Regions from separate parts of the Homo sapiens genome. Here all the other regions are linked to region 1. The links come from fine-mapping of genetic effects on gene expression. A gene starts in region 1. Each other region holds a variant in brackets. All regions are shown on one strand. Distances are between the middles of the regions.

Evidence for each region. PIP is the estimated chance that this variant, and not a neighbour inherited with it, causes the effect.
Region 2: its variant is the best candidate, but not a certain one, in a credible set for the expression of INPP5B in subcutaneous fat (GTEx, PIP 0.80).
Region 3: its variant is the best candidate, but not a certain one, in a credible set for the expression of INPP5B in blood mononuclear cells (TOPMed, PIP 0.51).
Region 4: its variant is the best candidate, but not a certain one, in a credible set for the expression of INPP5B in tibial artery (GTEx, PIP 0.52).
Region 5: its variant is the best candidate, but not a certain one, in a credible set for the expression of INPP5B in whole blood (TOPMed, PIP 0.77).
Region 6: its variant is the best candidate, but not a certain one, in a credible set for the expression of INPP5B in lymphoblastoid cells (GEUVADIS, PIP 0.89).

What each region holds. Positions count from the first base shown.
Region 1 is chr1:37,944,733-37,948,818 of GRCh38, reverse strand. INPP5B (inositol polyphosphate-5-phosphatase B) reads left to right here and starts at 1,766. Exons shown (of 24, transcript NM_005540.3): 1 at 1,766-1,829; 2 at 2,485-2,567; 3 at 2,969-3,063. The coding sequence starts at 2,511. LOC105378651 (a long non-coding RNA gene) reads right to left here. Exons shown (of 5, transcript XR_001737983.3): 5 at 3,192-3,540. RefSeq lists enhancers at 1-208, 1,598-1,837, 1,415-1,944.
Region 2 is chr1:37,793,313-37,797,398 of GRCh38, reverse strand. It overlaps MANEAL (mannosidase endo-alpha like), which reads right to left and starts at 3,552. Exons shown (of 4, transcript NM_001113482.2): 1 at 2,667-3,552; 2 at 1,553-1,662; 3 at 579-655. The coding sequence starts at 3,216. RefSeq lists silencers at 3,216-3,335, 3,596-3,645. The variant G/A (reference allele first, on the strand shown) is at 2,338.
Region 3 is chr1:37,921,411-37,925,496 of GRCh38, reverse strand. The region is part of intron 7 of INPP5B (inositol polyphosphate-5-phosphatase B); the gene reads left to right. Among named protein-coding and RNA genes, the nearest start is that of INPP5B, 24 kb to the left of the region's middle. The variant C/T (reference allele first, on the strand shown) is at 2,461.
Region 4 is chr1:37,975,285-37,979,370 of GRCh38, reverse strand. It overlaps SF3A3 (splicing factor 3a subunit 3), which reads left to right. Exons shown (of 17, transcript NM_006802.4): 10 at 316-383; 11 at 544-651; 12 at 2,418-2,487. Among named protein-coding and RNA genes, the nearest start is that of SF3A3, 13 kb to the left of the region's middle. The variant G/A (reference allele first, on the strand shown) is at 1,824.
Region 5 is chr1:37,853,156-37,857,241 of GRCh38, reverse strand. The region is part of intron 2 of MTF1 (metal regulatory transcription factor 1); the gene reads left to right. Among named protein-coding and RNA genes, the nearest start is that of MTF1, 4.4 kb to the left of the region's middle. The variant C/T (reference allele first, on the strand shown) is at 1,784.
Region 6 is chr1:37,899,052-37,903,137 of GRCh38, reverse strand. All of the region lies in intron 7 of INPP5B (inositol polyphosphate-5-phosphatase B), which reads left to right. Among named protein-coding and RNA genes, the nearest start is that of MTF1, 42 kb to the right of the region's middle. RefSeq lists an enhancer at 1,306-1,545. The variant A/G (reference allele first, on the strand shown) is at 1,903.

The DNA of each region.
Region 1 (4,086 bases):
TGGGCTTAAGGCTCCTCACTTCTCCCCTTCTAGGGCCTAGGCCTGACCATGGAACCCCCCAAGGGGGCAGGCCCTCAGCCCTAATCTCAGGGAGAGGATAGGGTTTGTCTGGAAAAACAGAAAACCTCCTGCCTGACCCCCACCCAGTGGGAGGACCCCCAAATCCTGCAGGGACAGTTTCTTCATCATAAAAAGCACACAGCCCCATCTACTTTGCCCAGACCCTCCTCGCCAGGCTTTGACACTAGAGCAGGGCTGGAATTGGGGTTCCTCTGCTTCCCTGCAGTGACCCCACCCCTTGATCCTAAGGGTCTGAGTCAATCCCCTTTCCCCTCATCGTCCACATGACTTAGACACTGAATTCAAATAAACTTGAGCTCCATTTGTGCTGTGGATGTTTCCAGGAAAAGAAATGGATTGAGAAGAAGGCAACGACTGTTTCTGGAAGGGGTTTACATATGCAAAGTTGAACTGGTCATTAGGATGGCCACTTCACTTGGGGAAAGAGGAAGGGAAACTGTTCACAAGTCACAACAGTCACCCCCTCCCCAGCACTGAAGGCCCATTCCTTCAGTTTGGGCCAAAGCTTGAGAGAAGGTGTATTTATTAAAATAGTTCAGAAAGTAATTCACTAACTCCATAGATAACTGTGTGCCAGAAACTGCTGGTATGTTGATGAAAAGGCATAGTCCTGTCCAACGGGAGCTTACAGCTTAATTAAACAGCCAATAGGCCAAGTGAGAATGATCCTAGCATTCCTTATCTGAGCTGGGTGAGCAATCACAGCTCACTGCAGCCTTGAACTCCTGGGCTCAAGCAATCCTCCCACCTCAGCCTCCCAAGTAGCTGGGACTACAGGCATGCACCACCATACCCGGCTAAATTTAAAAAAATTTTTTTTTAGAGATGGGGTCTCAAACTCCTGGCCTCAAGCGATCCTCCCTCCTTGGCCTTCCAAAGTGCCGGGATTACAGACATGAGCCACTGTGCCCAGTCCCTGTGCTGGCTCTTTTTGTCCATCTTGGGTAACCTCCTTATCTTAGATGGGGAAATTGAGTCCCAAGGGAAGAAAGGTCTTGGCCAAGGTCACAAAGCCAGGCGGATCAGGGGAAGGACGTTGCCGGACAGGAACAGTGTCATACCCTTTATAAAGTGCGTTCACACCCAGTAGCCTCAAACAGCCCTGTGTGGCAGGAGGGCTGGGTGGGGCTAAGGGAGGAAATAGGGCAGTGTGTAGCGGTATAAATGGCCCAGGAGTTGCAGTCAGACTTTCAGTGGAGTCCCAGTGTTGCCACCTGCTAGCTGCAGGACTTAATGTCAAACTGCTTAACCTATCCAAGGCTCAGTTTCTCCACCTGGAAAATGGACATAATGGTTCTTCATAGTCTGGTTCTCCCTCCATTAAACCAGGAGAAGGTAGTTATTTTAGGGGAAGAGTTTCAGTAGAGGTCCGGGTTGTCTACCCTGGAGTGAGAAGAGCTGAGGATGGAACTAAGGAGAAAATAAAAATGCATTATATTCTTCCCCTAAGATAAAATGTGACCATCTTCCTTCTGGGTGGGAAGCTCTGGCCCCATGACCTAGAGGGCTGGGGATGGGAGTGAGGGCAATCATTAGAAAACCTTTCTGGTATAGGAAGCCCAGTGTACCCCAGGGCCTAAGGGGTTAACACGGATGGAGAGACTCCCCACCCCACGATTGACTCGGGCATGCTGGGACTTGCAGGCTGACTGACCACCATGTGGCGCAGGGGCTGTTGGGAAATGTAGTCACTGTCCCGGAACCTGGGGCAGCGGAGTCCCGTGCGCCCTGTGGTGACAGCTCAGGAGGTAGGTGACAATGTCAGGGAGCTGTGGGTGGGAGCAGAGCAGGAAAGCCAGGGCAGGGCTGGGCAGGAGGGAGTGGGCAAGCTGAGGGCTGGGACACCCCCCAACCCCCGGCCTGCAGCTGATGCAATGGGCCTGCTGGGGCGGGGGTGAAGGGCAAGCAGCAATGGGACACTTCCTGTCTCCAAGGAAAGAGGAATGGGACCCTCCTGAATGACAGTAAGGGGATGTTCCCTGAACCCCACATGGACACACCACTGACACCTCCCAGAGAGGCGCTAGCAGAACAAAAACTGTCCCCAAAAGAGAGGAAGAGCCATGTCCTAGGAGCAAAGGGACTAGGTCCCCTTCTCCAATCCACGTACCCCACTTCCAACAAGGATAGACCACACTCAAGAGCAACTGGATGCCCTCCCAGACAAAGGCAGTATAGCAAACTGTAGATCCCAGCGGGGCAAAGGGACTGGACCCCTATCCCTAAAAACTGAAAGGCCTATTCTAGGGAGGACAAAGAGGAGGAGGAGGAGGATCAGGCCTCCCCGGTACCATCTCCCTCTGCAAAGGCCCCTCCCTCCTGCCCCCAACCCCTCTGAGGCAGCTCCACCACCCCATGCGTAACTTGTTGACCAAAGCGGGGCTCCTATCTCCCCTCCCACAGGGTGTGTGCGCTCAGCAGGGGCCAGCATGGACCAGTCTGTGGCAATCCAGGAGACGCTGGCTGAGGGGGAATACTGCGTCATCATATCCTTCCTGTGCTAACTGCGGCCCTGAGCCTGCCCTGGCCTTGGGAAGAGGAATGGAAGGTGTCGAGGTGTCTATCCCCTCTCCTGCCCCTCTGAACCATCAGGGGAGAAGGAAATCAGTATTTACTAAGTACTTACTGAGTCCTGGACTCTCAGCCAAATGCTTTAAATACGCAGTTATCCTCCTAACTCCCTATGAAGTTGGGGATTATTATCCTCATTTCATAGATAAGGAAGGCTTAGAGAGCCTGTTTGTCTGTTAGTTCAGCACATGGTTTGAGTGCTCACCCAAGGCCACACAGTGAATCTGGGGGGGCAGGGGAACAGAGGGAAGGTGGGACAGCCTGGGTGGGGAGAGGCCTCGCCTCTGGGTTGTCTTCCCTTGACTCTGAGCCGCAGGCGGTGCAAGGTGTGCTGTGTGAGGGGGACAGCCGGCAGAGCCGCCTCCTGGGACTCGTGCGCTACCGCCTGGAGCACGGCGGCCAGGAACACGCGTGAGTGAGGGGCTTGGTCCCCACCTGTCTGGGCCATGGGGTTGTTCATCACTGCACCCTCCAGCTGAACTTCAACTGTCCCTCCAGGGCAGGGTCTGAGTCTCCTAGAATAATTATCACAATGATAGTTAATATTTTTTGAACACTATATTTTAAACCCTGCACACGTACTAACTCATAATCCTCAAGATCTAAGGAGGAAGTTTCTTGAGAAGAGACAGTTTAACATACTAGTCCAGATCTTGAGCCTCGTGGTCCAAATGCCTGGGTTCAAACCCAGGCTTTGTTACTAACAAGCCACATGATCTATTGTTTGTTTGTTTTGAGAAGGAGTCTTGGTCTTTGCCCAGGCTGGAGTGCAGTGGGGTGATCTTGGCTCACTGCAACCTCTGCGTCCCAGGTCCAAGCAATTCTCGTGCTTCAGCCTCTTGAGGAGCTGGTATTACAGAGGTGCCCGCCACCATGCCTGGCTCATTTCTGTATTTTTAGTAAAGACAGGGTTTCACCACGTTGGCCAGGCTGGTCTTGAAGTCCTGACCTCAAGTTATCCACCTGCCTTGGCCTCCCAAAGTGCTAGGATTACAGGCATGAGCCAGCGTGCCCAGCCTCACATGATCTTTTTTTTAGAGACGGGGTCTCTTTCTGTCACCCAGGCTGGAGTGCAGTAGTGCACTCATAGCTGCATGCTGGAACTCCTGGCCTCAGGTCATTCTCCCACTTCAGCCTCCCAAAGTGTTGGAATTTTAGGCATGAGCCACCGCACCTGGTGGAACCACATGATCTTGAGCAAGTTGTTTTACTCCTCGATTTGTCCATATTAAAGAGTAAAGTGAGTTAGGCCAGGTGCAGTAGCTCATGCTTGTAATTCCAACACTTTGGGAGGCTGAGGCAGGAAGATTGCTTGAGCCTAGGAGTTCGAGACCAGCTTGGGCAACATAGCGAGACCGCCCCCCCTACCCCGCCCCACCTCCCGCTCCCCGGCTCCATCTCTACAAAAAATAAGAAAATTAGCTGGGTGTTGTG
Region 2 (4,086 bases), 150 kb after region 1:
GATGGAATCTCGCTCTGTCACCCAGGCTGGAGTGCAGCGGTGCAATCTCGGCTCACTGCAACCTCCGCCTCCCAGATTCAAGCGATTTTCCTGCCTCAGCCTCCTGAATAGCTGGGATTACAGGTGTGCGCCACCACGCCTGGCTAATTTTTTTATTTTTAGTAGAGACGGGGTTTCACCACGTTAGTCAGGCTGGTCTCGAACTCCTGACCTCAAGTGATCCGCCTGCCTCGACCTCCCAAAGTGCTGGGATTACACCATGCCTGGCCTTCATTCAATACTTTCTGAATGAATAAATGAGGTGCCTACATTGTAGAAGCTACTTTCACATATATTAATTCGTGTGATTCTCACAAGACTCAAAGGTTAAGAGGCTTGCCTCATCACAGATTAGAAGCCACAGGACAGGAATTGAAACCCAGGCTGCCTGACTTTAGGCCCAGTACTCTCTTACTATAAAACAGCTGCTGGGAAACACAGGCATTATGCCCTGTGTCTCTTGACCTGCCCCTCCAAACCTTCTATCCCTACCTCCATTTTGATCCCCACCAAAATCCCGGCCCCCAGAGCAGCCTTACGTGTCAATGATGTACTTGATGTTGTCATGTACAGTGATGTCATCCCGGCCCTTGTAGGGTTGGATGTGGAAGGCCACCTGCCACAAACAGAGGAGTAATGGTCAGGTGAGTGTCTATCTAGGGGCCACAACATATCAGGCTCAGGATCTAACCATGGCCTGGAGGAGAGGCTGAGTTCAGAAGAGGGCCTGGCAGTGGTGGGCACAGTAGAGATAAAGGCAGCTGCTGCCCTTGAAGGCCAAAACAGGGGTGAGCAGTTTGCCCATCTCCCGCAGCAGGGCATGTGGGAATCATTTTGGTGGGCTGTTACAGGGTGGCTAATAGGTTTCAACCTTGTGCCAGCTCCAAGTGGTTGGTGCTAGCTGCCTGAAACAGTGGAATAAGTATGCTGAAGCTGTGTCAGTGGAAAACTGCTGTGATCTGTTAGACATGTCAGTGGTGGAATTCTCTTCAGGAATAGGGGAGTGGGGCTTTTCTTCTTTCTCTATCATTTTTCTTCCTTCACCACAGAAGCAAGGGATGACTTACTTGATTGGCACATGTGGGGAAATGCTTCGTCCAGTCCGTCCTTCCTCTTGAAAGTGAGCCCACCTGCTGAGAACACCTGCCTACTCCTCGAGGTCCAGCACTGCCTCCCACTAGAGAGTTGAGTCTGCAGGTCCCTTTGGCTCTTGCCTACCCTTTTTCCACCAGGGTTTACAACCTAACCTCTATTATTATTTAACAAAAGTGATAATTATTTAGTCTTCTCTTGGTCCTATATTTAGTTTTCTCAGTTTTCTTAGAATTCAAAAAACTAAGAGCAACATAGGCACCATTTATCTGAACCCTCCCCCAAAACCACACTTGCCACATATTTGTTATCCCTTTGGGCTACTGCCAAGAACTTCTGTAGAGGCACTAACCCTGTGGGCGGAGGAGAGCAACTCTCCAGAATAGGGCAGAGAGCACGTGGCCTCTTCTTGGAGACTCACCTGGATGCTGTACTGATGGGCGGTGTCCAGAATGGCGGGCACCAGGTCATCTGAGGGCTCCCCGTTATCATCAGCCATGCCAGGTGGGTACCAGGACAGGACCAGGACGCCTGAGACGCAACACAGAGGCCACTTCAGAGACACACAGTACCCCCCTCAACAGAGATTTTTTTCCTCACAAACATCTCCAATTGCAAAAATGGTTCCTAAAAACCTGAAGCAAGCCTCCTGCCAGGTTCACTTCCTGCAGATGAGTCCCAGAGCCTCGCGCCCCGGAGCTGTCCACGCCCGCGGTGCTGAAGCGGAGCGCCTGCGGGAACCGTAGCGCGCCAGGCCGGAAGGGAGCCAGGCTTTAGACTGCCTCAGCAAGTAGTAGAACAAAGGGAATGGGAGGACAGTGCCACACCCACCTGGAAGCCACAGGCCTACCTCTGAAGAAGAGAAGCACCCCTAACCCTAACGTCCCGCATGGAGAAGAGCCCTGAGCAGAGGCCATCTGTAAAATCCAGCAAAATTCAGTGACGAAATCCGAAATAAGTGAGCCTCCCCTCCATAGCCTACGAAGGAGGCGCCCTGGGACCTTCCCTCCAGCTGGGTGCTTGATGAAAAGCCTCTAAACCCCCAACACTACCTCCAACTGCAAATAGAGCAGAGGCCTTCATGGAACACGGGCACACTTTCCTCTCTGCAGCCAGCAAAAGCAGGAACGGCTGCTGCTCTACCCTGTACCTGCCATGAAAGCAGAGGCCGCCCTAAGTTCCACTCCTCTGAACCCCAGAACCTGC[G/A]GGCCAGGACTCCAGGCCTCACTTCCCATCGCCCAACAAATTTGAAGACTCTGCCTCCCTCTCCTGGTGCAAACTCCTAGCAGTTCCGCCCTATGGGAAGGGCCCTGGATGTTAGGGATGGAAGGGCCCAGCTGGGGGGTCTGAATACTAGACGGAGGGGCGGTGTCGCATGGTGGGCCCAGGATGAGAGTGGGAGGGAACAGCTAAGAAGCCAGGCTGGCGGATAAGTGGGACCAAAGGGCCGGTGACAGGACCAGAGGGAGCTGGGGTGTGGGAAGGAGGAAGGGTGAGGCTGGGGGGCAGGGCCGCCCGGGGTGGGGGGCGCTCACCGATGGCGGCTTCCTTGAGCTGGGTCATATGCTCCCGCAGCACTTCGGGGTCCCGGGAGCTGTAGGGCCCCAGCTCCGGGTAGAAGCTGGAGCCCAAGTCGTCTGGGGGGCTGTGGCGGCCGCGGGGGTAGCTGGCCGAGATCTTGGGGTCCCAGTGCGGCACCATGACGTGGTCCCAGTGAATGTAGTGGCCCTCGCGCCGCGGGCTCCCGTACCACGAGTAGTAGAAGGCGTGCAGGTCCGAGTAGACGCGCAGGCTCTGCACGGGGGCGGGCTCGGCCTCCGCGGGTGCCGGCCCAGGGGAGCCGCCAGGGTCCGCGGTGCGGGGCGGCGGCGGCGGCGGGGGCGGCGCGGCAGGGGCTGCCGGGGCCCTGGCAGCGGGCGCGGGGGCCCCCTCTGGGCGTCGCTCAAAGGGCGCCAGCTCCAGGCCCGGGCCCAGCGCCGGGAGTCCGTCCGGAGCCTTGAGCGTGCGCAGACCCATGAGGGTGCCGAAGGCGAAGAGCAGCACCAGGAACAGAGCGATGCAGGCGCGGCGCCGCCGCCGGGCCATGGCCGACTGTGCGCTCCTGCAGCCGCCGCGCTACCTCCCAGCGTGCCGCGCCATGGCCGCCCGCCCGGCCGCGCGCTTCCCAGGCAGACTGTGCGCCCGGCAGAGCGCGGCGTGGGCGGCGCCCGGCCTGTCCCCGCAGTGCGGGCGGGCTCGGCACACAGGACGCAGGCGGCGCGGACCAAGTGGCCGCGAGCCGAGGGGGAACTGCACGCCGAGTGCAACGCAAGGCCCAGCGAACGGCGAGTTTCGGGGCCACAGGAGCAGGGGCCTGAGTCAGGCCGCGTGACCCGCGAAAGAAGAGTCGCCTGGCTGCCTGGGCGGCAGGTGGTGGCGCCTGGCTGGGGAGCGGGGACGCAGGCCTTCCGGAGCGCGGGAGAGAGGCGGCGCGGCGGGGGCGGGGGCGGAGGCGGGGCGGGGGGGGGAAAGAAGCGCGCGTCGGTGGTTCTCTCCCCAAGGATTTCCTTCTTCGTCGATCCACCTTTACTCACTTCACTGGCCCCCTCCCTACGGGTCTCAGTGCCACCCTTCTAGCCCCAGGTCCCCCATCCCTCGGCCCCCCTCCCCGGCACCCCAGGCAGCCCCTGAACCTCGGGGGAAGGGGCGTCGGGAAATCCCCAGGAATCGGACCCTGCAGACGCCGTCCGGGGCCTGGCGGGCGGAGGACGACCGTGACTCGCGCAAGGTCACACTGACCGGGCCTGGACCCCGGGTCAGGGCGCACTCTCCAGAGCTCGCTGCACTGCCCAGCCTGCCGGGTCGCAGTGTGGCTTAGTGAGTTCTCTGGTTGGAATCTCACGAAGCCAAAATTAAGGCGTTGGCAGGTTACACTCCTTTCTGGAGGCTCTAGGAACGGATCTACGTCCAGCTCAA
Region 3 (4,086 bases), 23 kb after region 1:
GAGGCTGAGGCAGGAGTCTTGCTTGAGGAGTTCCAGACCAGCCTGGGCAACATAGTGATATCTCTAAATTTAAATAGATAAATATATAAAATAAATTACGCTCTAACAGTTTTGTTATTGGTGATCCATACATGAACTGAAGCTAGCAAATATGAATGAGAAGAGACTTTCTTTCTTGGAATGCCAATGATGAGAATTTAAACAAAGTGGATGTCAAGAGGCCTGGACATTTTTCTTTTTCTTTTCTTCATGGTTCCTTGGTGCACTATTACTTTCTCTTTTTGTTTTTATTTATTTTTATTTTTATTTTATTTTATTTTTTTGAGACGGAGTCTCACTCTGTCACCCAGGCTGGAGTGCAGTGGTGTGATCTCTGCTCACTGCAGCCTCCACCTCCTGGGTTTAAGCAGTTCTCCTGCCTCAGCCTCCCAAGTAGCTGAGATTACAGGCATGTGCTAACATGTCTGGCTACTCTTTGTATTTTCAGTAAAGACGGGGTTTCAACATGTTGGCCAGGCTGATCTTGAACTCCTGATTTCAGGTGATCTGCCCACCTTGGCCTCCCAAAGTGCTGGGATTATAGGCGTGAGCCATCATGCCTGGACTAATTTTTATATTTTTAGTAGAGACAGGGTTTCACCATGTTGGCCAGGCTGGTCTTGAACTCCTGACCTCAAGTGATTCAGCCTGCCTTGGCCTCCCAAAGTGCTGGCATTACAGGTGTGAGCCACCATGCGCAGCCTCTTTTTGTTTTTAGAGACGAGATCTCCCTGTGTTGCCCAGGCCGGTCTCAAACTCCTGACCTCAAGTGATCTTCCCGCCTCTGCCTCCCAAAGTGCTGGGATTACAGGCATGAGCCACCGCGCTTGACCTCTTTGTACGATATTAAACGTGTGTCTCAACTTTCCTCTTATGTCTTTAAAATGGGAGTGAATGTTTGCCTCCTGGAAAGTCACACAGGACTTAAGCAATGCTAATTATTTAGACGTGCTTTCATTTGGGAAATACAATTAGAAATGGGAAATGCTGGCCAGCAGCGGTGGCTCATGCCTGTAATCCCAGCACTTTGGGAGGCTGAGGTGGGCGGGTCACTTGAGGCCAGGAGTTTGAGATCAGCCTGGTCAACATGGCGAAACCCTGTTTCTACTAAAAATACAAAAATTAGCCCGGCAGGGTGGCACATGCCTGTAGTCCCAGCTAGTCAAGAGGCTGAGGTACGAGAATCGCTTGAACCCCAGAGGTGGAGGTTGCAGTGAGCCGAGATCACGCCACTGCACTCCAGCCTGGGCAAGAGCGAGACTCTGTCTCAAAAAAAAAAAAGAAAAAGAAATGGTAAATGCTCACCTCTGAGAACTGAGAACCTGGCTGCTGTCTTCAGGGTCTATCCTAGGGGGATTTCTTCCTGATAAGAACTGCATTGGCTGGGCACAGTGGCTCAGGCCTGTAATCTCAGCACTTTGGGAGGCTGAGGCAGGTGGATCACCTGAGGTCAGGAGTTTGAGACCAGCCTGGCCAACATGGTGAAAACCTGTCTTTACTAAAAATACAAAAATTAGCCAGGTGTGGTGGCTTGCGTCTGTAATCTGCGTGCCACTTGGGAAGCTGAGACAGAAGAATCACTTGAACCCTGGAGGCAGAGGTTGCAGTGAGCAGAGATCACGCCACTGCACTCCAGCCTGGGCGACACAGCGAGACTCCATCTCAAAAAAAAAAAAGAACTGCACTTACTCCTTTCCTCCCTCCATTTTCATATTTCTGAATGCAGTCACTAACAACCTCAGGGTATCCTTGACTCTTCCCTCTGCTCTCATGTCTAATAAGCAAATTCTGTTCATTTTTTTTTTTCTGCAGTGCCTCTCCTATCTACCCACATTTCAAAATCCCCCTTATTCATGTTGGTATCCTCTTAGCTGAACTGTTGCAGTAGTCTTCTTGTAAGTCTTCCCAACCTCAAGTTTCCCTCTCCTTTAGGGATCTCCTTAGAACATAACTTTGATCGTATTCTACTATTTTGTATGTGAACTTCAATATTGTACCACTCCCTGTTGCCTATAGAATAAAGCTCAAATTCCTTAGTATAGTGGTCAAGTCCTGCACTGCCTGACCTCAGCCTGCTTCTCTGTCTGGTCTTATCTGCTACAACTTATCTTCATTTCCTTTTACTTCAAACTTGACTGCTTATTATTTCTGGATAAAGCCCTGTACTTTTTCACCTATTTGTTGACTTCTCATTCAGCTACATTTTTGTAAGCTTGAACTTGCTGCTTTTAGCATTTTGCATTCTCTCTCCTTCCCAAATGACAGCCGAATGCCTTGTACATCAGTAGGTGCTCAAAAAATGTCTGTCTCTGGTTGAATTGTAGAGACCCATACAATTTCTAGCCCAAGGTGCTTTGTGGCCTCAACAACTCCTGCCCCCTTCCTCTTTGAGCATGCTCTGCATCTCTGTGTTGCCCTCCC[C/T]GCTTCCTGGTTTGCTCTTGCCCACTTCTCTTTTAGCTTTATCACCAGACCACAGACAGTTCACAGAAGGCCCACTGAAGGGAAGCCTGAGAAGGAAAAATTCAAGTCATCTCTCCAGGGGCCTATCACCACTAACCAACCTGTTGCCGTAAAGTAATTGCACTGTAGTCTTCCTCCTTGAAAGCTAAACTGGTCATATTTAGTCCTTGCCAGCCTAAATTGGATTTGCACAGGGTGCAAATTGGATTTCCAGTCTAGAACTTACAGGTTTGCTTGGCATGAGATGTGTTTTTAGAGATGTCTGTGTTCATTTTATTTTATTTTATTTTATTTATTTTTTTGAGACGGAGTCTCGCTGTGTCACCCAGGCTGGACTGCAGTGGTGCGATCTTGGCTCACTGCAAGCTCCGCCTCCTGGGTTCATGCCATTCTTCTGCCTCAGCCTCCCAAGTAGCTGGGACTACAGGCGCCTGCCACCATGCCCGGCTAGTTTTTTGTATTTTTTAGTAGAGATGGGGTTTCACCGTGTTAGCCAGAATGGTCTCAATCTCCTGACCTCGGCCTCCCAAAGTGCTGGGATTACAGGTGTGAGCCACCGCGCCTGGCTTATTTCATTTTTTGAAACGGAGCCCAGCTTATTTCATTTTTTGAGACGGAGTTCACTCTGTCACCCAGGCTGGAGTGCAGTGACATGATCTCGACTCACCTTAACATCCACCTCCCAGGTTCAAGCAGTTCTCCTGTCTCAGCCTCCCAAGTAGCTGGGACTACAGACATGTGCCACCATGTCTGGCTAACTTTTATTTATTTTTATTATTTTTATTTTCATTTTTTTGAGACAGATTCTAGCTCTGTCACCTAGGCTAAAGTGCAGTGGCATGATCTCAACTCACTGCAACCTTCACCTCCCATGTTCAAGTGGTTCTCCTGCCTCAGCCTCCTACGTAGCCAGGACTACAGGTGTCTGCCACCACACCCAGCTCATTTTTATTTATTTTTAGTTTTTTGAGACAGTCTTGCTCTGTTGCCCAGGCTGGAGTGCAGTGGCATGATCTCGGCTCATTGCAGCTTCCACCTCCTGGGTTCAAGCAGTTCTCCTGCCTCAACCTCCTGAGTAGCTGGGATTACAGGCGCTCGCCAGCAAGCCCGTTACAGGTGCCCGCCACCACGCCTGGCTAAGTTTTGTATTAGTAGAGACGGAGTTTTGCTATGTTGGCCTGGCTAGTCTCGAACTCCTGACCTCAGGTGATCCACCTGCCTTGGCTTCCCAAAGTGCTAGGATTACAGGCGTGAGCCACCACGCCTGGTCTTTATTTTATTCATTATTATTTTTAAAAAATTTTTGTATTTTTAGTAGAGACAGGGTTTCACCACGTTGGCCAGACTGGTCTCGAACTCCTGACCTCAGGTGATCCTCCCACCTCAGCCTCCCAAAGTGTGGAGATAATAGGCGTGAGGCACTGCGCCTGGCCCTGTGTTCATTTTAAATGATAGAATCTATGGCACTTCTTTTTAAAGCTGTGAGATATTTGAGAAATGTAAAAGAAATGAAAAAAGAAAACTAAACATGGTTATTTAACTTTGAAGAAAGTAACAAAACAATTTGGGATGGTGGCAAAGCTGAAC
Region 4 (4,086 bases), 31 kb before region 1:
TAAGGCACTATTTCTTGAGATCAAGCATCTACAAAGAAAGTAGCAAGGCAAAAAGAAAAAAATTACTACTTGGGAAACTGAAATAATTATTCTAACTACATTAAGCCGTAGTAAAGTAAATGGAACACTATCAGTATGGTTAAGTCTGAAGATAACTATAGATTCAGTCCTCTGGAGAGTTTAGACTTACTGCTAGATTGGCTGTGAAATGTGTGGTCCTGCCACAGCCTCAGGAACACCCACCCTCTGGCCTGCATTTGGGGTTTCCCAAAAATCTGTTAATGTAATATTGTAATTTTTCTCTTCTTTGTATAGGAGTTGGCTTCTCTGGGTTTGGACAGATTGAAATCTGCTCTCTTAGCTTTAGGCTTGAAATGTGGCGGGTAAGGAATAGTTTTTCTATCAAAACTATCGATTTACTGTGTGTTTGCACAGTCTTCTAAGTAGCTCTGATTCCATTTTTTTTGTTGCTCCACACTGCAAAAATAAGCCAGCCTGTGTGGTAAAGTAACCCTAAAATCCTTTGCCGTCCTGTCTCCTTAGGACCCTAGAAGAGCGAGCCCAGAGACTATTCAGTACCAAAGGAAAGTCCCTGGAGTCACTTGATACCTCTTTGTTTGCCAAAAATCCCAAGTCAAAGGGCACCAAGCGGTGAGTGGCTGGGGTAGCACTGCTGCTTGTGGCTTTTAAATGTTATTCCCATGCAGAATTTTTAACCACAGTGGAGACTTTAAAGCCTGCTTTATCTCCGTTATTGGTTGACAGAGATCCAGTCTGCTCTTTATCTCTGCTAATAGCAGAGAGTACTATCACTGTTAATATAAACCAAGGACCGTCTGTATTCATCTGATTGAGAGCACATCAAGTTTCTAAATTTGAAACCATATTCATGGCACCTTTAATAGGTTATGGAGGCTAAAAGGCTAAATAGGTTCAAAACCTATTTTTCTAAGCTTATTTTTGGTAAAGTTGAATCTAATTCTTGAGCTACATACTTATACAAGGTATTTTCTTTTTTCTTTTTTTTTTTTTTTGAGACAGTCTCACTCTGTTGCCCAAGCTGGAGTGCAGTGGTGCAATCTCAGCTCACTGGAACGTCCACCTCCTGGGTTCAAAAGATTTTCCTGCCTCAGCCTCCTGAGTAGCTGGGACTACAGGCACGCACCACCACACATGGCTGATTTTTTGTATTTTTAGTAGAGATGGGGTTTCATCATGTTAGCCAGGCTGGTCTGCAACTCCTGAGCTTAAGTGATCCACCTGCCTTGGCCTCCCAAAGTGCTGCGATTATAGGCGCGAGCCACCGTGCCCGACCCAGGGTTGTTTTTTTTGTTTGTTTGTTTTTTTCTTTTTTGAGATGGAATCTCGCTCTGTTGCCCAGGCTGGAGTGCAGTGGCACAATCTCGGCTCACTGCAAACTCCGCCTTCTGGGTTCAAGTGATTCTGCTGCCTCAGCCTCCCGAGTAGCTGGGATTACAGATGTGCAACACCACATTGGCTAATTTTTGTGTGTTTTTTGTTTGTTTGTTTTTGAGACGGAGTCTTCCTCTGTCACCCAGGCTCAAGTGCAGTGGCGCAATCTCGGCTCGCTGCAACCTCCACCGCCCTGCTTGAAGCGATTTTCCTGCCTCACTCTCCCGAGTAGCTGAGATTACCAGAGTGCGCCACCATGCCTGGCTAGTTTTTGTATTTTTAGTAGAGACGGGGTTTCACCATGTTGGCCAGGCTGGTCATGAACTCCTGACCTCAGGTGATCCACCTGCCTCAGCCTCCCACAGTGGTGGGATTACAGGCATGTGAGCCACCGTGCCCAGCTAATTTTT[G/A]TATTTTTAGTAGAGAGAGGGTTTCACCATGTTGGCGAGGTTGGTCACAAACTCCCAACCTCAAGTGATCGCCAGCCTCAGCCTCCCAAAATGCTGGGATTACAGGCATGAGCCACCGAGCCTGGCCCAGTATTTTCTTAATGTACGTTTTTTTCTAATTCTCACAACAACCCAGAAAATTAGTTGTTATCCTGAGTTTTTGCAGATAAGGACTCAGAAAAGTTATGGAATGTGTCCACTCTCTCATAGTTCTAAGTAGCAGAGTCAGGATTTGGGCCTAGGTCTACCTGCTGCAGAGCTTGCTCTTATATACCACATTTCCTTTGTAGATTATAATGATGGAAATGTAAGCGGTCTTGATGTGTCCTTCATCTTCTAAGTGAGGTCATAGAGGAAGCCTCCATGCATTCTGAGAAATACCCTCAGTATTTGTCAGAGAGTCCTGAGATGAACAGAGCATTTGCTTTCATAGCATCGTATTTCTCATGTGCTTATAATTTTTAATGCAGTTGTGCAATAAATGTTCCCAGATATAGGGAACAAAACAATGGATGAGAGAATCCTTGAGTGAAACAGCTTGTTTCTTTTTCTCAGAGACACTGAAAGGAACAAAGACATTGCTTTTCTAGAAGCCCAGATCTATGAATATGTAGAGATTCTCGGGGTAAGTGACTGACTGCTGAAAGTGGAAAATGGTATAAAGCACAGGAGTTAAAGGGAGAGGAACTCACAGAAGATACTTTTTCATTAGGTTCAAAAGAGGAGTGGATAGCTGATAAACTAGTATGGCACAAAATAGAGGTCAGGGTACAAGGCTCTTCAGTAAGTTCCTATTCTGTTGTTAGATGATACTCCCAAAGTTGCCCAATTCCCATAAAGCCAGTCATGGAGAATAGAGTCCCCTCACAATATAATGTCCAGAATAGTGCAGATTCTGTGCCTGAGCTTTAGAAAATACTCAGGAGTAGCCCACAAAGCAGACACTCAAAGGGCAAGTAACAGAAAGGCTACTCAAAGTGGCCTTTCAGTTATGACTTATGAAAAGGCATTTTCATAAGTCATCTCATGTAAGTCAACTTACATGTTCATAAGATTATGAGAAACTTAGTAGGGCTAGAATATTATTAGTACAAAGCTGGCAGTGAATGTTCTTGAATATTTCAGGAGGAGCTGAAGTGTGGGTTGGGGTAGAGAAAGGCCTAGCCTGACCAGTATGCTTGTCTCAGAGAGAAAGCAGGGAGAGGAGTAGGAGGAAAAGAAATCTCTTTCCAGGAAGAAAAAGTGGAAGAAAGGGCAGCACTCATCCAGAAAAGATGATCAGTGTCTCTGGAGTCCTTCAGAAGACCAGCCTTTCTGATTGTGTCTGCTGTGTACAGTTTTTTTTTTTTTTTTGAGACAGAGTCTTGCTCTGTCACCCAGGCTGGAGTACAGTGGTGTAATCCGGGCTCACTGCAACCTCCACCTCCAGGGTTCAAGCAAGTCTCCTGCCTCAGCCTCCTGACTAGCTGGGACTACAGGCATGCGCCACCACGCCCGACTAGTTTTTTGTATTTTTAGTAGAGACAGGGTTTCACCATATTGGTCAGGCTGGTCTCGAAATCCTGACCTCGTGATCCGCTTGCCTCGGCCTCCCAAAGTGCTGGGATTACAGGCGTGAGCCACCGCGCCCAGCCCAATTTTTAACTCTCAGAGCCTTTCCCTTTACACATACTCGCATGGTCCGTTGAGTGGATGGCTCTGGATCAGATAGCTTGTTCACATATTTTTGTTAATTGCCGTGGACATTTTCATTCGGCCTTTGAGGACCATTCGTATAATAGCTGTAGAACTAGTCACCTGTGATTCTGTTATGACTGCTTTCAGTAAAAGGCTAGCTAGACATTGGACATTGGAGAGATATATTCTCCGCTGTGAACTTGGGCTGTGCTAGTGTGGACAGCAGGCTGAATTGCCAGTCTTGTGAGTGGCTGGGAGGCCACTCATGCCCTTGACATGAGATTTGTCCACCACTTTCTCCCTCTTTTTTTTTTTTGAAATAGTATCTCACTCTGTCACCCAGGCTGGAGTGCAGTGGCGGGATCTCAGCTCACTGCAACCTCCGCCTCCTGGGTTCAAGTGATTCCTGTGCCTCAGCCTCCCTGGTAGCTGGGACTACAGGTGTGTGCCACCACACCTGGCTAATTTTTGTATTTTTGGTAGAGACAGGGTTTTGTCTTGTTGGCCAGGCTGGTCTTGAATTCCTGGCCTCAAGTGATCCGCCTGC
Region 5 (4,086 bases), 92 kb after region 1:
GCAGTCAGTGAGGGCCTAGTTTGGTTTTGGGGCAAGTCCTTACAAAATTCTTGGTGCAAATTTTAGCTGGGGAGTAAAGGAGTGCATGGGGTTAGGACTTAAGTAGTTTTGCTATCAACAACATATGCCTCAGGTTTTGTTGTGATTGCTTCTGGAACTTTTGGTTTGTATAGCCACATTGAAATTTGGGAATATCAAATTGTAATTTCTCGAATTTCCTTCCCCAAATCATAAATAAAACAGAAATTTCACTTAAGTAGACCCATGTTTCTGGTGCTAAAATAACTATTTAGCTTATCTACAGGGAAATAACTGGAGTTTGCTTATTTGATGAAGAAATAACTATATTTGGCTTATCTCCTGGTTGTGTTTAAATGATTTGTTTTAGAGATGAGTATCTGCTGGAATATGTTTTATTATCTTAGTGAATGTTTAATGAACTTTTATTTCACAGTGGCACACGCCTGTAATCCCAGCACTTTGGGAGGCTGAGGCGGGTGGATCATTTGAGGTCAGGAGTTCGAGAGCAGCCTGGCCAACATGGTGAAACCCTGTCTCTGCTAAAAATACAAAAATTAGCCAGGCTTGGTGGCACATGGCTGTAATCCCAGCTACTCAGGAGGCTGAGGCAGGAGAATCACTTGGACCCGGGAGGCAGAGGTTGCAGTGAGCCGAGATCATGCCACTGTACTCCAGCCTGGGCGATAGAGTGAGACTCCATCTAAAAAAAAAAAAAAAAAAAGAAAGAAATTCAGGCTGGGCACAGTGGCTCATGCCTGTAATCCTAACACTTTCTGTAATCCCAGCACTTTGGGAGGCCGAGGCAGGTGGATCACCTGAGGTTAAGAGCACCCTGGCCAACATGGTGAAACTCCATCTGTACTAAAAATAGAAAAATTAGCCAGGCATAGTGGCGGGTGCCTGTAATCCCAGCTATTTGGGAAGCTGAGGCAGGGGAATTACTTGAATCTGGGAGGTGGAGGTGGCAGGGAGCCAAGATCGTGCCACTGCACTCCAGGCTGGATGAGAGAGAGAGACTCAGTCTCAAAAAAAAAAAAAAAAAAAAAAAAAGGAAATTCAGGCAAGAGACAGTAAATGAGAGCAGGTTATCTAAAATAAGTTTTCATTTTCATGTTTAGCTAATGTGAGTAAGCTAATGCATGTCAGGATGTTTTGAAAACTGTAAAGCATTTTACAAATTATATTAGTGGTTATTATTAGCAGAATAAAAGTTCTGGTTTAAAGGTAGTGATATACATTATCTAGGAACTATTTTTTTTTTTGAGATGGAGTTTCACTCTTGTTGCCTAAGCTGGAGTGCAGTGGTGCGATCTTGGCTCACTGCAACCTCTGCCTCCTGGGTTCTAGCAATTCTCCTGCCTCAGCCTCCTGAGTAGCTGGGATTACAGGCACGCACCACCATGCCCAGCTAATTTTTTGAATTTTTAGTAGAAATGAGGTTTCACCATGTTAGCCAGGCTGGTCTCGAACTCTTGACCTCAGGTGATCCACCTGCCTTGGCCTTCCAAAGTGCTGGGATTACAGGCATGAACCACCATGCCCGGCCCATCCAGGAACTATTACAGGTCAATTAGAAAAAAATAAGTCACTAGTAGTTACAGTACCAAGGACTAAGATGTTACCAAACAGAAATAGGGTGAATGATTTAGCAAGGAATATCTTTTTTGCTGTGGTTGAGGTCTTAAAATTGCATATGGCTTATTGATGGCATATCACTTTTCCTTTGCTAGCCTTAGAGAGACCATCTTGTCCCACCTCCTAC[C/T]CTATGCAGAAATCTCCCTATGGCATCCCTGACATCAGTTAATCTTGTTTCTGCTTGAAGACATCCAGAACAACAAGAGCAGAGTGTTTCATACCCCAACCCAATACATTTGTTAGCCAGCTCTGATTGTTAGAAAGCTTTTACTTGTATAGAACCAAAACCTGCCTTTCTGCAGGTGCTGCCCACTGGTTCTAGATCTGCCTTCCTGAGTAAACTTTCTCCCACAGAACAGTCCATCAGCTATTTGAAGATCATGGATTTTTCTTCCTCTTGTACAGGCTAACCACCTCCATTTACTTAAATGTCCCTCTGTGACATTTTCCCCAGTCTCTCATCAGCCTAGTCACCTTTGATTATATGAATTCCAGTTTTCCAAGGTCCTTTTTTTCTTCTTTTTTTGAGATGGAGTTTTGCTGTTGTTGCCCAGGCTGGAGTGCAGTGGCGTGATCCCGGCTCACTGCAACCTCCGCCTCCCAGGTTCAAGCGATTCTCCTGCCTCAGCCTCCCAAGTAGCTGGGATTACAGGCATGCGCTACCACACCCAGCTAATTTTGTATTTTTAGTAGAGACAGGGTTTCTCCATGTTGGTCAGGCTGATCTCGAACTCCTGACCTCAGGGGATATGCCTGCCTTGGCCTCCCAAAGTGCTGGGATTACAGGCATGAGCCACCGCGCCCGGCCCCAGAGTCCTTTTAAAATCTGCAGTTGAGCGCAGTCTCATAAGTGTGAGTCAACTAGCACTGAATACAGTATGGCTCTTATCTCTTAATCTGGACACTGTACTACAATTACTATATAGTCTACATTTTATCAGCAACATCTTACTGTTAGCTTATAGTTGGAAATTTCTAGAGTAGTGCTTCTTAACTGCGGGCAGCTTTGCCCTCAGGAGATGTTTGGCAATGTCTAGAAACATTTTGTATTGTCATACTGTGGAGGCGATACTGGAATCTAGTGGGTAGAGGTTAAAGACATTGTTAAATGTTTTACAGTGCACAGGACAGCCCCCTACAACAAAGAACTGGCCCAAAATAGTGATAGTGCTGGGATTGAGAAACCCTGCTCTAGATTATTCTCATGTATGCAGCTGTCAGATCTAACAAAAATGAAAATGGAGACCTGCATGTAAGCCTTATTAAGAATATCTCCCGGCTGGACATGGTGGCTCACGCCTGTAATCCCAACACTTTGGGAGGCCAAGGCTGGTGGATCACCTGAGGTCAGGAGTTCGAGACTAGCCTGGCCAACACAATGAAACCCTGTGTCTATTAAAAATACAAAAAATTAGCCGGGCGTGGTGGCAGACGCCTGTAATCCCAGCTACTCTGGAGACTGAGGCAGGGGAATTGCTTGAACCCGGGAGGTGGAGGTTGCAATGAGCCAAGATGGTGCCACTGCACTCCAGCCTGGGCAACAAGAGCAAAACTCCATCTCAAAAAATAAAAAATAAAAATATCTCCCTATGAAATTTTATCTTGTTGGTTTCAGTCCAATATTTGAGCTTGTAGGGGGGTTCATTTCAACTCAACAAACATTTATAAAGCAAAATGCTGTTATGCTCTGTGGATGTTGCAAATGATTGTGGTAGTCGATTTATAGCATAGAAGCAGAAATTGTTTACACCAATAATCATAGCAGCAAACACAGTGTGGTAAATGTGAAGGAGAGGTACAAATATTGCACTGTGAGCACAGGGAAGCTCACCCTTAATTCTGGGATCAGGGAAGTCTTTGTGAAAAAGGTGGCGTTTGAGCTGGTCTTAAAGAATACATACAATTTAGGAAAAAAGCAGGAGAAGGTTTTTCCAAGAGAGAGGAACAGCATGAAACAAGGAATGCAGGTGGGAAACAGGCCATTTTCAGGGAATAGCCAGTTGTCCTGTTACAACAGAGTCAGCACACTTTTTTCTGCTTAGGGCTAAATAGTAAATATTCTGGGCTTTGCAGGCTATAAGGTCTCTGTTGGAGCTACTCCATTCTTCCATTGTAGCACAAAAGCAGCCATAGACAATACATAAAGAATGAACATGGCCAAGTTCTGATAAGACTTTACAAAAACAGGCAGTGGGGTGGATTTGGTTCACTGGCTGTAGTGTGCTGACCCTTAGACTAGAACATAGTAGTAGAAGGAGATAAGGATGGAAAGATAGCAAAGATCCAAACATGGAAGGCAGTGGTAACCTTCTATGGGTTTTGAACTGTACTCTCCTAGAAATGGTGGGAAACCATTGGAGGTGTCTAAGCCAAGGCTAGAGTGGTTAGATAGAGAATGTGGTTAGAGTAGCATTTTAGAAGGATTGGTCT
Region 6 (4,086 bases), 46 kb after region 1:
AGCAGGTCTTAGCCTTATTTTACCTAGCTCTTATTCAAGATGGAGTTGCTCTGGTTCAAATGCCTCTGATAAAATGATTTAAGTTATTGAGGGATTTTACCCACAGTAGTGACGTGTCCAGATTTGTGTTTTCTTTTCTTTTCTTTTTTTTTTTTGAGACAGGGTCTCACTGTAGTGCCCAGAGTGGAATGCAGTGATACAATCATGGCTCACTGCAGCCTCGAGCTCCCTGGCTCAAGCTGTCCTCCCCCTTCACCTCCTGAGTAGCTGGGACTACAGGTTTGCACTACCATGCCCAGTTAATTGAAAAAATATATTTTGGGAGGCTGAGGTGGGTCGATCGCCTGAGGTCGGGAGTTTGAGACCAGCCTGACCAACATGGAGAAATCCCATCTCTACTAAAAATACAAAAATTAGCTGGGTGTGGTGGCACATGCCTGTAATCCCAGATACTCAGGAGGCTGAGGCAGGAGAATAGTTTGAACCCGGGAGGTGGAGGTTGCAGTGAGCCGAGATTGTGCCATTGCACTCCAGCCTGGTTAACAAGAGCGAAACAACATCTCAAAAAAAATTTTTTTTTTGTAGAAATAGGGTTTTACCATGTTGTCTTGGATTCCTGGACTCAAGCAATCCTCCTGCCTCAGCTTCTCAAAGCCTTGGGATTACAGGCATGAGCCACTGTGCCCACCCAGATTTGTGTTTTCTTCTAGGTGTTGGCAGAATGGAATTGGAGGAGGTGAAAATGGAGGTAGGGAAATCATTAAGTGGGCTTTCCAGAAACATTAAGGGCCTAAACTAAGGCATGACAGTAGGGATAGAGAAGACAGTCAGATATAAAAATATTTAAGAGAGGCTGGGTGAGGTGGCTCACGCCTGTAATCCTAGCACTTTGGGAGGCCAAGGTGGGTGGATCACTTGTGGTCAGGAGTTTGAGAGCACCATGGCCAACATGGTGAAACCCCGTTTCTACTAAAAATACAAAAATTAGCTGGGCGTGGTGGTGCATGCCTGTGATCCCAGCTTTCTTGAGAGGCTGAGGCAGGAGAATCGCTTCAACTCAGGACACAGAGGAGCCGTGAGCTGAGATCACGCCACCACACTCCAACCTGGGCAACAGAGTAAGACTCTGCCTCAAAAAAAAAAAATTTAATAGAGGATTCATAAGACTTGGTGACCGAACATGGGGAAAAAAGGAAAAATATCTATTGTCACCTATTAGATTGGGTGACAAAAAGATTGGAGGTCTGAGGTTAAAAAAAGGGCAGAGTGGGAGTAGGGAAGCAGGAGAGGAGAAAAGACAGGAAGCTGTGGCCAGAGGGGGAACTATGGGGCTGTGTAATGGCAAATCTGGTCAAGAGCTGCTCTGACAGCCAGCTTCCGTGCCAGGTTCTAGAGAGGAGATTCCGAGAAGACCGCCCTGTGGCTGGAAATCCCCCACATCATGCCTTAAAGTTTCCATAGGTAGTGTAATGAGTGAAGATGTTCTGGTCCTTGCTGGACTGTCCTGAGAGACCCCCTGTGAGAAGACATCGACAAGATGCAGGGCCATTTTCCCATCAGTACGCTATGTACCCCTGGCCGTGAACTGAATCCACAAACTGTCAGCCCTTAGGAGATGACCTTTCAGTCTGCTAGGAAGTACCTAAAGAAACATCCTGAGAGAGTCATTAGAAACCACTGACATGCAGAAGCAGAGCACTTCCTCATAACTCCTTAGTTTGAAAAGTGCAGGTGCCTTTCCATATGGTAAAGGCCCCTGAAATTTTGATATTTAAAATCCCCACTTTATAGATGAAGAAACCGAGACCCAAAGAGCAGAAGTGACTTCTCATGTCACACAGGAAGATAGTAGTAGAGCTGGACGTCAGCTGACATTTCCTGATACTTTGCTGTACTTAATAC[A/G]TAGAGTGCCTGCTGTGCACTGGGCAAGGAAGCAGAAGAAAGAAGACCAAGTCCCTGCCTCGCAGAGCTCACGATTTAGTGGAAATGGCATCCAATAATAATGAATAAATATAAGATTTAATATCAGGTCGGGCGTGGTGGCTCATGCCTGTAATCCCGGCACTTTGAGAGGCCGAGGCAGGCGGATCACCAAGTCAGGAGTTCGAGACCAGCCTGACCAACATTGTGAAATCCCATCTCTACGAAAAATACAAAAATTAGCTGTGTGTGGTGGCGCATGCCTGTAATCCCAGCTACTCAGGAGGCTGAGGCAGGAGAATCGCTTGAACCTTGGAGGCAGAGGTTGCAATGAGTTGAGATCGTGCCATTGTACTTCATCCTGGGTGACAAGAGAGAGACTCTGTCTCAAAAAAAAAACAAACAAAAACCGAAAACAAAAATTAGCTGGGTGTGGTGGCATCTACCTGTAGTCCCAGCTACACGGGAGGCTGAGGTATGAGAATTGCTTGAACCCAGGTGGCAGAGGCTGCAGTGAGCTGAGATTACCCCACTGTACTCTGGCCTGGGTGACAGAGTGAGTGAGACTCTGTCTCAAAAAAAAAAAAGAAAAAAAAAAAGAAAAATTCAAAGTAAACATGGAGATCTGTGGGAACACCAGACAAACTTCCAGTTGAAAGTAGTTCAGCCGGGCGCAGTGGCTCACGCCTGTAATCCCGGCACTTTGAGAGGCTGAGGCGGGCGGATCATGAAGTCAGGAGTTCAAGACCAGCCTGACCAACATTGTGAAACCCCGTCTCTACTAAAAATACAAAAATTAGCTGTGTGTGGTGGCACGTGCCTGTAATCCCAGCTACTCAGGAGGCTGAGGCAGGAGAATCGCTTGAACCTTGGAGGCGGAGGTTGCAGTGAGTTGAGATCGCACCATTGCACTCCATCCTGGGTGACAAGAGAGACTCTGTCTCAAAAAAAAAAAACCGAAAACAAAAATTAGCTGGGTGTGGTGGCATCTGCCTGTAGTCCCAGCTACGCAGGAGGCTGAAGCACGAGAATTGCTTGAACCCAGGAGGCAGAGGCTGCAGTGAGCTGAGATTGCCCCACTGCACTCTAGCCTGGGTGACAGAGTGAGTGAGACGCTGTCTCAAAAAAAAAAAAAAAAAAAAAATTCAAGGTAAACATGGAGATCTGTGGGAACACCAGACAAACTTCCAGTGGAACGTAGTTCAGCCGGGCACAGTGGCTCACGCCTGTAATCCTAGCACTCTGGGAGGCCAAGGCGGGCGGATCATGAAGTCAGGAGACCGAGATCATCCCGGCTAACACGGTGAAACCCCGTCTCTACTAAAAATACAAAGAAATTAGCTGGGTGTGGTGGCGGACTCCTGTAGTCCCGGATACTCGGGAGGCTGAGGCAGGAGAATGGCGTGAACCCGGCAGGCGAAGCTTCAGTGAGCCGAGATCGTGCCGCTGCACTTCAGCCTGGGCGACAGAGCAAGACTCCATAAAAAAAAAAAAAAAAGATGAAATGGAAATCTTTTTATGTGTATTATTTTTTCAAATTGCTACTAAGTTGTTAGGACTTAAATACTTATTTGGCCCTAACTACTTAAGTAGAACTGTTAGGGATTCCTTTTGGCCTAGAGGTACCTTGAGAAAATTATTATTATTATTATTTTGAGGCAGAGTTTCGCTCTTGTTGCCCAGGCTGGAGAGCAATGGTGCGATCTCGGCTCACCGCAACCTCTGCCTCCCAGGTTCAAGCGATTTTCTTGCCTCACCTTCCTGAGTAGCTGGGATTACAGGCATGTGCTACCACGGCTGGCTATTTTGTATTTTAAGTAGAGACGGGGTTTCTCCATGTTGGTCAGGCTGGTCTCGAACTCCCAACCTCAGGTGATTTGCCCACCTCGGCCTCCCAAAGTGGTGTTGGGATTACAGGTGTGAGCCACTGCGTCTGGCCTCAGAATTGTTAATCAGGACCCCCATGGAACACCATTATCAACTAGAGTACAATGCTTCTGTACAGTTCCACTTGCCTTTAGTCTTTTTTTTTTTTTTTTTGACAGTTTCACTCTTGTTGCCCAGGCTGGAGTGCAATGGCGCGATCTCGGCTCACTGCAACCTCCGCCTCTCGGGTTCAAGCGATTCTCTTGCCTCAGCCTCCCAAGTAGCTGGGATTACAGGCAT